Homo sapiens: one gene and its partners. Changing the gene in region 3 together with the main gene of any one other region gives a genetic interaction. Each region holds a gene or a part of one and is shown on either strand. Other genes may lie near its edges.

What was found.
Region 1: changes in CHD1 (region 3) and EDA together harm fitness less than expected from each alone (positive genetic interaction), as found in Homo sapiens cells (one large-scale study listed by BioGRID).
Region 2: changes in CHD1 (region 3) and PRSS8 together harm fitness less than expected from each alone (positive genetic interaction), as found in Homo sapiens cells (one large-scale study listed by BioGRID).

Annotation. Positions count from the first base shown.
Region 1 is NC_000023.11:70,032,054-70,035,700, forward strand, and holds part of EDA (ectodysplasin-A), read left to right. Parts: intron 1-1,344; coding exon 1,345-1,475; intron 1,476-2,027; coding exon of another isoform or gene 2,028-2,147; exon of another isoform or gene 2,148-2,993; intron 2,994-3,304; coding exon 3,305-3,556; 3' UTR 3,557-3,647. UniProt on the Homo sapiens protein: Cytokine which is involved in epithelial-mesenchymal signaling during morphogenesis of ectodermal organs. Functions as a ligand activating the DEATH-domain containing receptors EDAR and EDA2R. May also play a role in cell adhesion.
Region 2 is NC_000016.10:31,132,845-31,137,103, reverse strand, and holds the start of PRSS8 (prostasin preproprotein), read left to right. Parts: upstream 1-1,376; 5' UTR 1,377-1,605; coding exon 1,606-1,690; intron 1,691-1,932; coding exon 1,933-1,950; intron 1,951-3,715; coding exon 3,716-3,878; intron 3,879-4,150; coding exon 4,151-4,259.
Region 3 is NC_000005.10:98,922,400-98,926,046, reverse strand, and holds part of CHD1 (chromodomain-helicase-DNA-binding protein 1), read left to right. Parts: intron 1-3,647. UniProt on the Homo sapiens protein: ATP-dependent chromatin-remodeling factor which functions as substrate recognition component of the transcription regulatory histone acetylation (HAT) complex SAGA. Regulates polymerase II transcription.

The DNA of each region.
Region 1 (3,647 bases), on a different chromosome or scaffold from region 3:
TTTGAGACCAGCCTGGCCAACATGGTGAAACCCCGTCTCCACAAAAAATACAAAAATTAGCTGGGCATAGTGGCACACACCTGTAATCCCAGCTGCTCGGGAGGCTGAGGCAGGAGAATCACTTGAACCCGGGAGGTGGAGGTTGCAGTGAGCCAAGATCACACCACTGCACTCCAGCCTTGGTGACAGAGTGAGTGACAGTCCATCTCAGAAAAAAAAAAAAAAGAAGAAGAAGTGATGGGGTCAGGGGTTGGAGGACGTCATGCAGAGTGGTCCATTGATGGGACAGAGCCAGGGCAGCTCCTAGCCCATCTACTTACCACCTCAAGGAAAGATGGTCACCTTTTCCAGAAAGGCTGTTTCCTCACCCCTCAGACAGGCAGGCCTACTGAAACTGGCCAAAGATGGACTTATAAAATATAATTTCTTGGGTGCAGGATGGATGGCTTAGAGGGGAAAAGGCTCCCTGGGCTTGGATGTCCTCCTCTCATGGTGGGAAGGAACATTCCTCTTTCTGCAGGATGGAAAGAGAAGTTTTTCCTCCATCCTCACACACTGGCTTCCGCTGTCCAAAGGAGTGTGACTGCCCCCTCCACCCCTGCCTGGGGTGGGGCTGAGACAGATGCTTTGCCAAGGGTGGCTCGGCTCCTATCCTCCCAGCTGGCTCTATTGCAGCCTGCCAGTCTATCCTTCACTCTCATAAGGATCCCTCTCACCTATGGGGCCCTGGTACTAGTGGTCAGTAGCCCCAGTTACCATGGAGTCTGAATCATCTCTAATCCCTAAGGTTCTCCAGATAGACAGTGGGCTGAGTGGTTTCCTCCCAGGGAGGCTTTCCAGAAAGCTGTGGGTGTGGAAGAACCGTAAAAAAGAATCTCTTAAGGAGAAAGAGAAAACCCATGAACCTATGAGATGAGAGGGATTCAGGAGCTCTGGCTGGGAAAGTAAAATTGAATAATAAGACCTAGCCTGCCACTCAGTGTCTGAATTTTGCCTGTGCAGGCCCCATAACAACAAAGAAAATAGGGCAGCATGCCCACTCTCATCCTCCACCGGCAAATTCCAGCTAGAAGGTATTGGTTAAAGACCCTTCCAGATGCAAGGGTCAAGAAAGGAAGGATAAAGACAGACAGGCAGAGCCCAGGAGCCCTGAAGCAGGCCTGGCAGCTGCTTTACAAACAGAACAGCTTCTCTGCTTTCAAATGCTCTTCTTAAAGTTTGGCCTTCTAGGCTACCCTGGTTGCACTGGGATAGGGGTGGGGGTTGTGAACTCCTTGGTATTTATTTTCTGTTGCCTCGATTATTCTGACATGTACTGAGTGACTGCCCTTCTCTCATACTGAGATCTTTCAGGTGGAGTGCTCAATGACTGGTCTCGCATCACTATGAACCCCAAGGTGTTTAAGCTACATCCCCGCAGCGGGGAGCTGGAGGTACTGGTGGACGGCACCTACTTCATCTATAGTCAGGTAGAAGTGAGTACGGTCTTAGGCCTAACTCTTCTTATATCCAGAATGCAGATCCGGTGCAGGCCACATAGGGGCACTGTGGAGCCAGCCAAGACCATCCAATGGCTAACTTCCTGCTTTGGGTGAGGGGGTGGGGGGACCGCACTGGGAGGGAGTTGAAAGGAGGAAAGAGAGAGGGGGCCAGCTTCTTTTGTTTTGTTTTGTTTTGTTTTTCCTTAGCCAAATATTATTGAAAAACTGTGAAAAAGACCCCTCCCACACCCTGCCATCTGATTCCCTCCTGCAGGGCCTCAGGCCCCTGTTTACCCTCTGAGCTGTTTGGCTGCACTGCCAAACTTGAACTTGGTCTCAGTACATTCTTTGAAAGTCAGTTCCAGGGTTACTGAGAACCCTTTCCCTCAACACTGCTGGCTCGGACGTTGTAATGAATAGTGCTCCTGCAGACTTTCTTTCCACCTCAAAAAGATTTCTGACTGTCTTTCCTTCCTCTTTCTCCCATTTGTTTCCCTATCTTTCTATTCCTCTATTCTTGCCTCCTTCCTGCTGTCATTCTCCCAGCCCTTTCTCCCTCTGCTTTTGTCCTCTTCCTGCCCTGGGCCCGCTCCCCAAGTCCACCAGTGTCCATCTACTTCCGTTCCCCCATTGTTTGCCTCCATGGGAGTGGCTCCTTGGAGATAAAGGAAGATGAGCCATGAGGTTGGGATTTTTGTGGGATGGGCAGCAAGCAGGCAGGTGGACAGAAGGACTATGGAGCCAACAGATGGGTGTCACATGAGAGCGGCCAGAGAAGGTGGGCTAACAAGCATCTGCTAGGCACACTGAGCACCCCGCTGTAGCTTGGGTCCTGACCCGTATATGGCACCCAAATATGCTGTTCCCACCTGAAGAGCTGATAGAGGGAGTGACCTTTCATAAAATGATTTACGGTGATATCTGAGAGTCCCAACACCCATGGGGCACATGGGCATAACCCTGATGTCCTGTGAGCCAAGTTCCACGTGGTGGGGGTGGGCGGCAGATCAAAACTTGGTGTGAGGTATGATGGATAAGGGTAGTGAAGGATGGAAAAATTAATTTTCTGAGCCTAGGAGAGAATTGAGAGTGGCCCATGCAGGCTGGGAAAATCCCCATGACATTAGGCCACTGAGCATAAGTTAGTGCTTCCTTCTGGCCACAAAGTTAGGGGCCTGGGCTTTTCCAAATTCTTTGTCTTGTTTGTGGTAGCTAGCTCTCGATCTCTCTGGACCTGTTTCCTCAATCATCAGATGGGAGGCCCAAGGGGCACTGTGAATCAGTGAGGGGAGTCCAGGCCCAGGGGAGGGGTGGTGCAAGCTGAATAAGCTTCTGTTAAGGAGCTCAAGAAATCACAAGTTGTTACATGCCCTCTCTGGGGAATCAGTGACTTCTAAGTTTCTCCACAAATAGTCCGTGGGGCTCAAGAATGGAAGTCAGTTTGTGTCCACGGCACTGTGTACACACCTGCTACGTGCAGAGCACTCTGCTTCATGTCAGGGCTGGGGCAGGGGTGGGCGGGGGAACAGGGGCACGGTGAAGCTGCAAATAGGGCATGGTTCTTAGCCTTACAGAGTTTGCGACAAGTGTGCTGTTGTAAGAAAAGTTTGCTCAGCCAGCTGAGCCCCATGGACTAGGGGAAGAACAATGCCTGTCACCTGTCCTTTCCTGTTGGCCAGCTAGCACGCCTTCACATGGCACTGCCCCATCCATGGGGTATACTAACAGCTCATCTGAGAAGATTCTGTCAATTCACCACAGGGAGGGCCCCCCACCCTCTCTTTCCTCTCTTCCCCAATCCCTTCTTGTTGCCTCTCACTCAGGTATACTACATCAACTTCACTGACTTTGCCAGCTATGAGGTGGTGGTGGATGAGAAGCCCTTCCTGCAGTGCACACGCAGCATCGAGACGGGCAAGACCAACTACAACACTTGCTATACCGCAGGCGTCTGCCTCCTCAAGGCCCGGCAGAAGATCGCCGTCAAGATGGTGCACGCTGACATCTCCATCAACATGAGCAAGCACACCACGTTCTTTGGGGCCATCAGGCTGGGTGAAGCCCCTGCATCCTAGATTCCCCCCATTTTGCCTCTGTCCGTGCCCCTTCCCTGGGTTTGGGAGCCAGGACTCCCAGAACCTCTAAGTGCTGCTGTGGAGTGAGGTG
Region 2 (4,259 bases), on a different chromosome or scaffold from region 3:
TTGGCCTCCCAAAGTGCCGAGATTAGAGGCGTGAGCCACCACACCCAGCCTCAACAGGTGTTTTGAACGGCCAGAGTGGCCCTCAAGGAGGATACATGCCTCACTCCCACCGCAGCCACACGGCAAGCCTTCTTTCCCTGAGCCTCTGCCCTCTGCACCCCATCCCCCCATCTTCGCCTTACCACCTTTTATAATCCCTTTCGGTCTCAGTTTCCAAGGCAATTCCTCGAGGACCCTTTCACAATGCCAGCCTTTGCCAGGCTGTGGTGTGCTCACGCCATTCTTTTTCATCACTATTCCTAGCTTGAAATTATTGTGTAATTGCAATTTTTTTTTTTAAGACAGGGTCTCCCTCTGTTGCCCAGGCTGGAGTGCAGTGGCGTGATCATAGCTCAATGCTTCGTTGAACTCCTGGGCTCAAGCAATCCTCCTGCCTCAGCCTCCCAAATAGCTGGAACCATAGGCATGCGCCACAATGCCTGCCTAATTTTTATATTTCTTTGTAGAGATGAGGCCTCGCTATATTCCCCAGGCTGGTCTGGAACTCCTGGCTTCAAGTGATGCTCCAGCCTCAGCCTCCCAAAGCCGACTAGCCACCTTGCCAGCCTGTTTGTGATTATTTGATTGAAGTGTGTCACCCCTACTTCACCATGAGCTCAGGGCTCAAGGGGGACGGGGCTGGTGCCTGTTTTGTCCTGGACACCTGGGAACATCATAGGCACTTAGGAAATGTCTGTGGGATGATTGGTGCTGCTCCACAAGCTCGCCACCACCCATGAGGTGCAGGCATCGCAGAAAGGGCCTGGCAGGGGACAGACCATAGTGTCTTAAGCTCCCATAACCAGCCTAAGGAGGGAGGGAAGAAGGGAGGAGTGGCTGTGGCTCCAGATAATAAAAGCTGGGGCCAGGCCCTGGGGGGCATAACTGGCCTGAGATAACCTGAAAGACCTGAGGCGGAGGAGAGTCGTCACATTCCAGGGAGACTGCACACACACACAAACCACATGCACGTGCATGCACGCACACTCAGACACACACACTACACACACAGGGACACACACAGCCTACACATGTGCACATACAGCCTGTACATGCACACACACACACATACCACACCACATAAGAGGACACACACAGCCTACACAGGCATACACACACACCACATACACACTACACACCGGGACACACACACAAAAGGCCTATGCATGTGCACACACATACACACGGACACATACATGCACACACACGGGCCTGCAGCTCTGAAAGGACTCATGACTTTGGTGGCAAGAGGAGCTGGCGGAGCCCAGCCAGTGGGCGGGGCCAGGGGAGGGGCGGGCAGGTAGGTGCAGCCACTCCTGGGAGGACCCTGCGTGGCCAGACGGTGCTGGTGACTCGTCCACACTGCTCGCTTCGGATACTCCAGGCGTCTCCCGTTGCGGCCGCTCCCTGCCTTAGAGGCCAGCCTTGGACACTTGCTGCCCCTTTCCAGCCCGGATTCTGGGATCCTTCCCTCTGAGCCAACATCTGGGTCCTGCCTTCGACACCACCCCAAGGCTTCCTACCTTGCGTGCCTGGAGTCTGCCCCAGGGGCCCTTGTCCTGGGCCATGGCCCAGAAGGGGGTCCTGGGGCCTGGGCAGCTGGGGGCTGTGGCCATTCTGCTCTATCTTGGATTACTCCGGTCGGGGACAGGTAAGTGAGGACGTGGGGGCAGGGTGGGGACAATGCACTGGAGGGAGCCGGCGTGATCATTTTCTGGGGTGTGCCCTTGTCTGGGGCCCAAGAAAACCCCCGGCCTCCCTAGCTCTTGGCCTCTCTTTCCCACCTTGGCTCTGTCAGGGAAGGGGCCAGCCCTCTGGAGCAGTGGTGGGTACTAAGGGGTCAGGGAACCCGAGTCTTCCCTACTCACCCCTCCTCTTTCTCTTTCTTTCTAGGAGCGGAAGGGGCAGAAGGTGAGACTTTCCTCGGAGAGGGAGGAGGGGAGGGGGAGGTGACTTGGATCGGATTCCCCTGGGGTTTAACCAGTGCCTGGCCTTCAGCTGGGCTGCCTTCCAACTAGATTCTCTTAGGGCTCCCAGAGTGGGGGGTTTTAGCCCTCACCTTATGGGCAGAGAAGCAGGGACTTGCCCAGGGCACACTGCCAGTGAAGGTGCAGCTGGGATTCAGATCCACGTCTGACTCCCAAAGTGGGGCAATCGAGGTGGTTTTTTTGGTTTGGTTTTTGTCTTTTGAAACAGGGTCTGGGTCTGTCGTCACCCAGGCTGGAGTGCAGTGGCCCGATCGCAGCTCACTGCAGTCTCAGTGATCCAGCCTCCCGGGCTCACGTGATCCTCCCACCTCCCCACCTCAGCCTCCCTAGTGGCTGGGACTACAGGTGCATGCCATCACACCCAGCTAGTTGTGTTTTGTTTTTGTTTTTGTTTTTGTTTGGTAGAGATGTGGGTCTCACTATGTTGGCCGGGCAGGTCTTGAACTCCTGGGCTCAAGCGATCCTCCTGCCTTGGCCTCTCAAAGTGCTGGGATTACAGGTGTGAGCCACCGTTCCCATCCTGGAGGTGGTTTTGAGGGAACCAAACCAAGGGTCTCCTTTCTTGGAAGGCACCCAACCCAGCTCTGAGTCAGACCGGCTTTCAATCCTGGCTTCCCCATGCACTGGCTGTGTGTCATTGGCCAAGTCCCCCCACTTCTCTAAGCCTTAGACTCCTCACCTCTAAAATGAAGCTGGTCATGTCCGTCTCCTGGGGCTGTGGAGAGGATGCAGGGAGATGAGGAAGCGAAAGCCCCTCCAGGGCCTGGCACAGCCGCTAGGCTCTCTAAATAGTGGCTATTGTCATGATGATAAGGGAGAGAAAGATCTGGTCTGCAATTTTCTCTGCTCCTAGATGACTTTGTGAAGAGCAGTTGGGCTCCACTCCAAAGTGGCCTCAATGGGGGTGGGGCTGGGGCTGTCCTGGAAACTAGACATTCACATCACAGGAGCCCAGTTCTGCTGTTGGTTTGTTGAATATATGTCCACGACGCCACAGGCACTGCAGACATGAGAATCTGCCCCTAGGGAATGCCCAGATTGGTGTGGTGGAAACAGACACAGTTGTGGACTCCGGAACAATTGTGAGACTGGGCAGCATCGGGGAGCATGGTGGAGGTTGGGGGGTGCTGGGCTCGGAGGCAATGCCCAACTCAGCCAGCAGAAGCCCGCCTGTCTACGGAGGGGCTGCTGTTCCAATCAAGCATCCACAGGCAAAGGGAAGTTTGCCAGACAGTAAGGATGGGGAAGGGCATACCAGGTAGAGTGACCTGGATCAGCCAAGGTCCCGGGTAAACAAGTGTGTGGCCTGATGTACACAACTGAAGGGTCCAGAGGGGACGGCTGGGTCCGATGGCGGTGCCATGGTCTGTCTGGAATGTATCTTAAGGACCGCGTGGAGCCAAGAAGGGTTTAAGCAGGGCTGTGGCCTGGTCAGATTGGGGGTTTATGAAAATCTTCAGACTTGTAAGGGGCGGGATGGATGGAAGGCTTGCAAGGAGAGAAGCTGCCATGAGACCTGAATTAGGTAATGGGTAGTGGACAGAAGGGGCACAACTGCCCATGCCTGGGAGGGGACAAAGGGGTGTTGACTCCTGTGAACCCACTTCCCAAGCTCTATATCAGAGCTCCTGGGCTGCATAGGAGTGGCCAGGCTAACAACCTGACCCCTTCCCTTCCTCCCTGGGCAGCTCCCTGCGGTGTGGCCCCCCAAGCACGCATCACAGGTGGCAGCAGTGCAGTCGCCGGTCAGTGGCCCTGGCAGGTCAGCATCACCTATGAAGGCGTCCATGTGTGTGGTGGCTCTCTCGTGTCTGAGCAGTGGGTGCTGTCAGCTGCTCACTGCTTCCCCAGGTACCAAATGGTGAAAGTCAAAAGTGGGCTGGAGGTCAAAGTTAATGGGTCAATCCAGGTCAGAGGTTGGGGTTCTTGGGTTGGGTCTGAGAGTGTCAGTTCTAAGTCTGGAAGGACCAGTTAGGAGTGAAGGTGAGGGGTCAGAGGTTACATGATAAAACTAAGGTGCAATTTGAGACCTAAAAGGGGCTGATCGGAATCAGGGGTTGGCAGTGGGGGTTGGGGAACAAGGAGAGGTCTCCTGGGTCTCAGCCTTTGCCCCCTGCCTGCAGCGAGCACCACAAGGAAGCCTATGAGGTCAAGCTGGGGGCCCACCAGCTAGACTCCTACTCCGAGGACGCCAAGGTCAGCACCCTGAAGGACATCATCCCCCACCCCAGC
Region 3 (3,647 bases):
AGCATGTATAATAGATTTAAATTGTTTTGACTGTTAGTGAAATTTCTAGATGAAGGCAATAAAAATTTTTTCACTCATCTTTTTCTGGCATTTTGTCTTCTATACCTGTACTGTCCAGTGTGGTAACCACTAGCCACATGTGGCTATTTGAACTCAATTACAAAATATTCAGAATTTACTTAGTCATACTAGATATATTTCAAGTGCTGAATAATCACATGTGGCTAGTGGCTACCATATTGGACAGCACATAGAAAACATTCTATCACTGGAGAAAGTTTTAGACAGTGCTGAGCCAGACATTTGTTGAAATATTACTGTGGCCCTTTTTTATTTTCAGATTGGAGTTTTAATTATCTGTGAAGGAGTTAAGAGTTCTTGCTTGGGTCAAGTGTTTGCAAAGAAGATTCTTTAAATTCTGTAGCTCTCAAATTTTGAGTTATCTGCACATTAGTTTACAATCCATGTAGTTATATGCATTATCATATATAGAAATTAGGAATGTGGGCACTGGAGTCAAACTGTTTGCTTACCCTATTTCTACCTCTTATTAGTTGTGTGAATTAGGGCAAATTACTTAATCTCTGAGGCTCTGATTTTTGCCCCATAAAGAGGGGATTAAACTATTGTTTATCTTATTTAAAGTTCACGGCTGGGCTTGTTGGATCCTGTTTGTAATCCCAGCACTTTGAGAGGCTGAGGAAGGAGGATCACTTGAACTCAAAAGTTGGAGACCAGTTTAGGCAGCATAGTGAGACTTTGTCTGTAATTTATAAAAAATAAAATTTAAAAAAAATTTGAGGATTGAGATGCTTCATGTAAAGGGCTTAAAATATTTTCTGAGATAATGAGCACTGAATATTTGCTTATTGTAACCAGCATGTTTTGTGTAACACAGGATACTATATAAAAAAAACATTAATTACAGTGATGGAGACATGGGGGTGGACAAGAAACAGGAAAGTTTTGGCAATTAGGAAGATTAAGAAAAAATGTTAGATAGAAAACTAAATAGTGGTATTTGTATTTGATCTGAAACTTGGACTTTTCTTTTTCTTTTTTTTTTTTTGAGACAGAGTCTTGCTCTGTCGCCCAGGCTGGAGTGCAGTGGTGTGATCCCGGCTCACTGCAACCTCCACCTCCCAGGCTCAAGTGTTTCTCCTACCTCAGCCTCCGGAGTAGCTGGGATTACAGGCGCTAGCCACCACTCCCAGCTAATTTTTGTATTTTTTTTGTAGAGATGGGGTTTCGCCACATTGGCCAGGCTGGTCTCGAACTCCTGGCCTCAAGTGATCCACCTGCCTCGAGCTCCCAAAGTGCTGAGATTATAGGCATGAGCCACCACGCCAGGCCTGACACTTGGAATTTTCTGACCTTGCTAGTTATACTTTAGTTTATCAGCTTTCATACATACTGTTTGGATAAGCAAGAACATCATAGAGAATAAAATAAGGAACAGTTATGGAAAGCAGCATTATTACTTGAACAAGTATTGGTCTAGGAGTTATACAACCTGAGTTGATGCTATCTCTGCATTAATTAAAACTCATATGATTGCCTCAACTCTAAGGATTGAACTGATATTGAAGTTTCATTTTAATTAATTACAAAGTGCATCGTAAAGTTTCAAACAGTAAAGTTTTACTAGAATCACCAGAGTTGAGGTTTAATTAAAAGACTTTTGAATCTGAGCTTTGATTCAAATCTCTATAGGTATGTTGACTACTGACTATAGTTAAGTAAATAGAAGAGTCATATTGTCCACCCACAATTTTTTTTTTCTTTTCTTTTCTTTTGAGACAGGGCCTCACTCTGTCACCCAGGCTGGAGTACAGTTGTGTAGTCTCAGCTCACTGCAGCCTCTGCCTCCACCTCCTGGGCTCAAACGATTCTCCCACCTCAGCATCCTGAAAGGCGTGCATGCCACCACACTCAGCTAATTTTAAAATTTTTTGTAGAGATGAGGTCTCACCATATTGCCTCAGCTGGTCTTGAACTCATGGGCTCAAGCAGTCCTCCCACCTTGGCCTCCCAAAGTGTTGGGATTACAGGTGTGAGCTGCCACACCCGGCCTCACATTTTCTTATTCATAGTTGGAATGGAATGGTTAGTAGGTAGAAATACCTAGAGGAAACAAAGGAACCAAACTATTCATAAAATAGGAGATAAGACTCGAGAGTAAATCTTCTAGTTGGATATGCAGACAGATCATGTGCTGGTATATTCTGACTACTTACCTGTTCCAATATTTTATATATTTTTCTGCCATATCTAAAGCGAGGAGGAGTAATAAGTCCAATTTGATACTACAGGTGAAAAAAAATTAAACCTTGTGGCCGGGTGCGGTGGCTTACGCCTGTAATCCCAGCACTTTGGGAGGCCGAGCAGGCAGATCACCTGAGGTTGGGAGTTCGAGACCACCTTGACCAACATGGAGAAATCCTGTCTCTACCAAAAATACAAAATGAGCTGGGTGTGGTGGCCTGTAATCCCAGCTGCTCGCGAGGCTGAGGCAGGAGAATTGCTTGAACCCAGGAGGCAGACGGAGGTTGCAGTGAGCCGGAGATTGCGCGATTGCACTCCAGCCTGGGAAACAAGTGAAACTCCGTCTCAAAAAAAAAAAAAAAATTAAACCTTGCGAAATCAAATTTAAGGAATCTTTTACAATGCATACTCATCTTAAATAATTGCAAAGCATATTTCTTTAATTATTCGGAGTTGTTAATTCTGCTATACAGGTTTTGTGTGCTTCTGAAAAGTGTGGTTATCAAGTTATCTAGTTTTTACAACTGCCTTGGAGTTTATCAGGAGAGAGACCTTCTTTTTTGCCTTCATTTTCTTTCTTACCGCTGCTATACTATGCTCTACTGTCATTAACACTCAATTCCCACTCCCTTCCCCAGAAGCTTTTGTCATAAGACATTACAAAGAAGGGAGATTGTGCCTAGTTAAAAGACTGAGGAGGTGAACTTTAGAGGTAGAGGGATTTTCTTGCAAAAAAAACTAAAGTTTCTATAACTATGAATATTAATATAGAGTAATTTTTTTTCTTTTTTTTGAGCCAGAGTCTTGCTCTGTCGCCCAGGCTGCAGTGCAGCGGTATGACCTCGGCTCACTGCATCCTCCGCCTACCGAGTTCAAGCAATTTTCCTGCCTCAGCCTCCCGAGTAGCTGGGACTACAGGCATGCACCACTGCATCCAGCTAATTTTTGTATTTTTAGCAGAGACGGTGTTTCGTCATGTTGGCCAGGCTGGTCTCGAACTCCTGACCTCAGGTGATCTGCCCGCCTTGGCCTCCCAAAGCACTGGGGATTACAGGCATGAGCCACCGTGCCTGGCCCCTAATATAATTAGATTAGAAATATACTTTGTTTCTAAAGTTGATATTCATTGTAAGTAGCTTTTTAAAGTAAATTTTGGTTTTTTAGTGGCTAGAATTCTATAATGTATTTTTGCTTCAAAATTTCCTTTTTCTTTTGTGAAAGTTTATTAAACGGAATAGAATTAAGAAAGAATTCATTTGGCATTTGCAGGTTACAGTTAGCTTTCTACTGAAAAAAAAAATTTTTAACTATTCTTTCTGTCTGGAGATCTCTCTATAACTATTCACTGAAAGGAAGAAGAATACACAGGAAAAATATGTCTC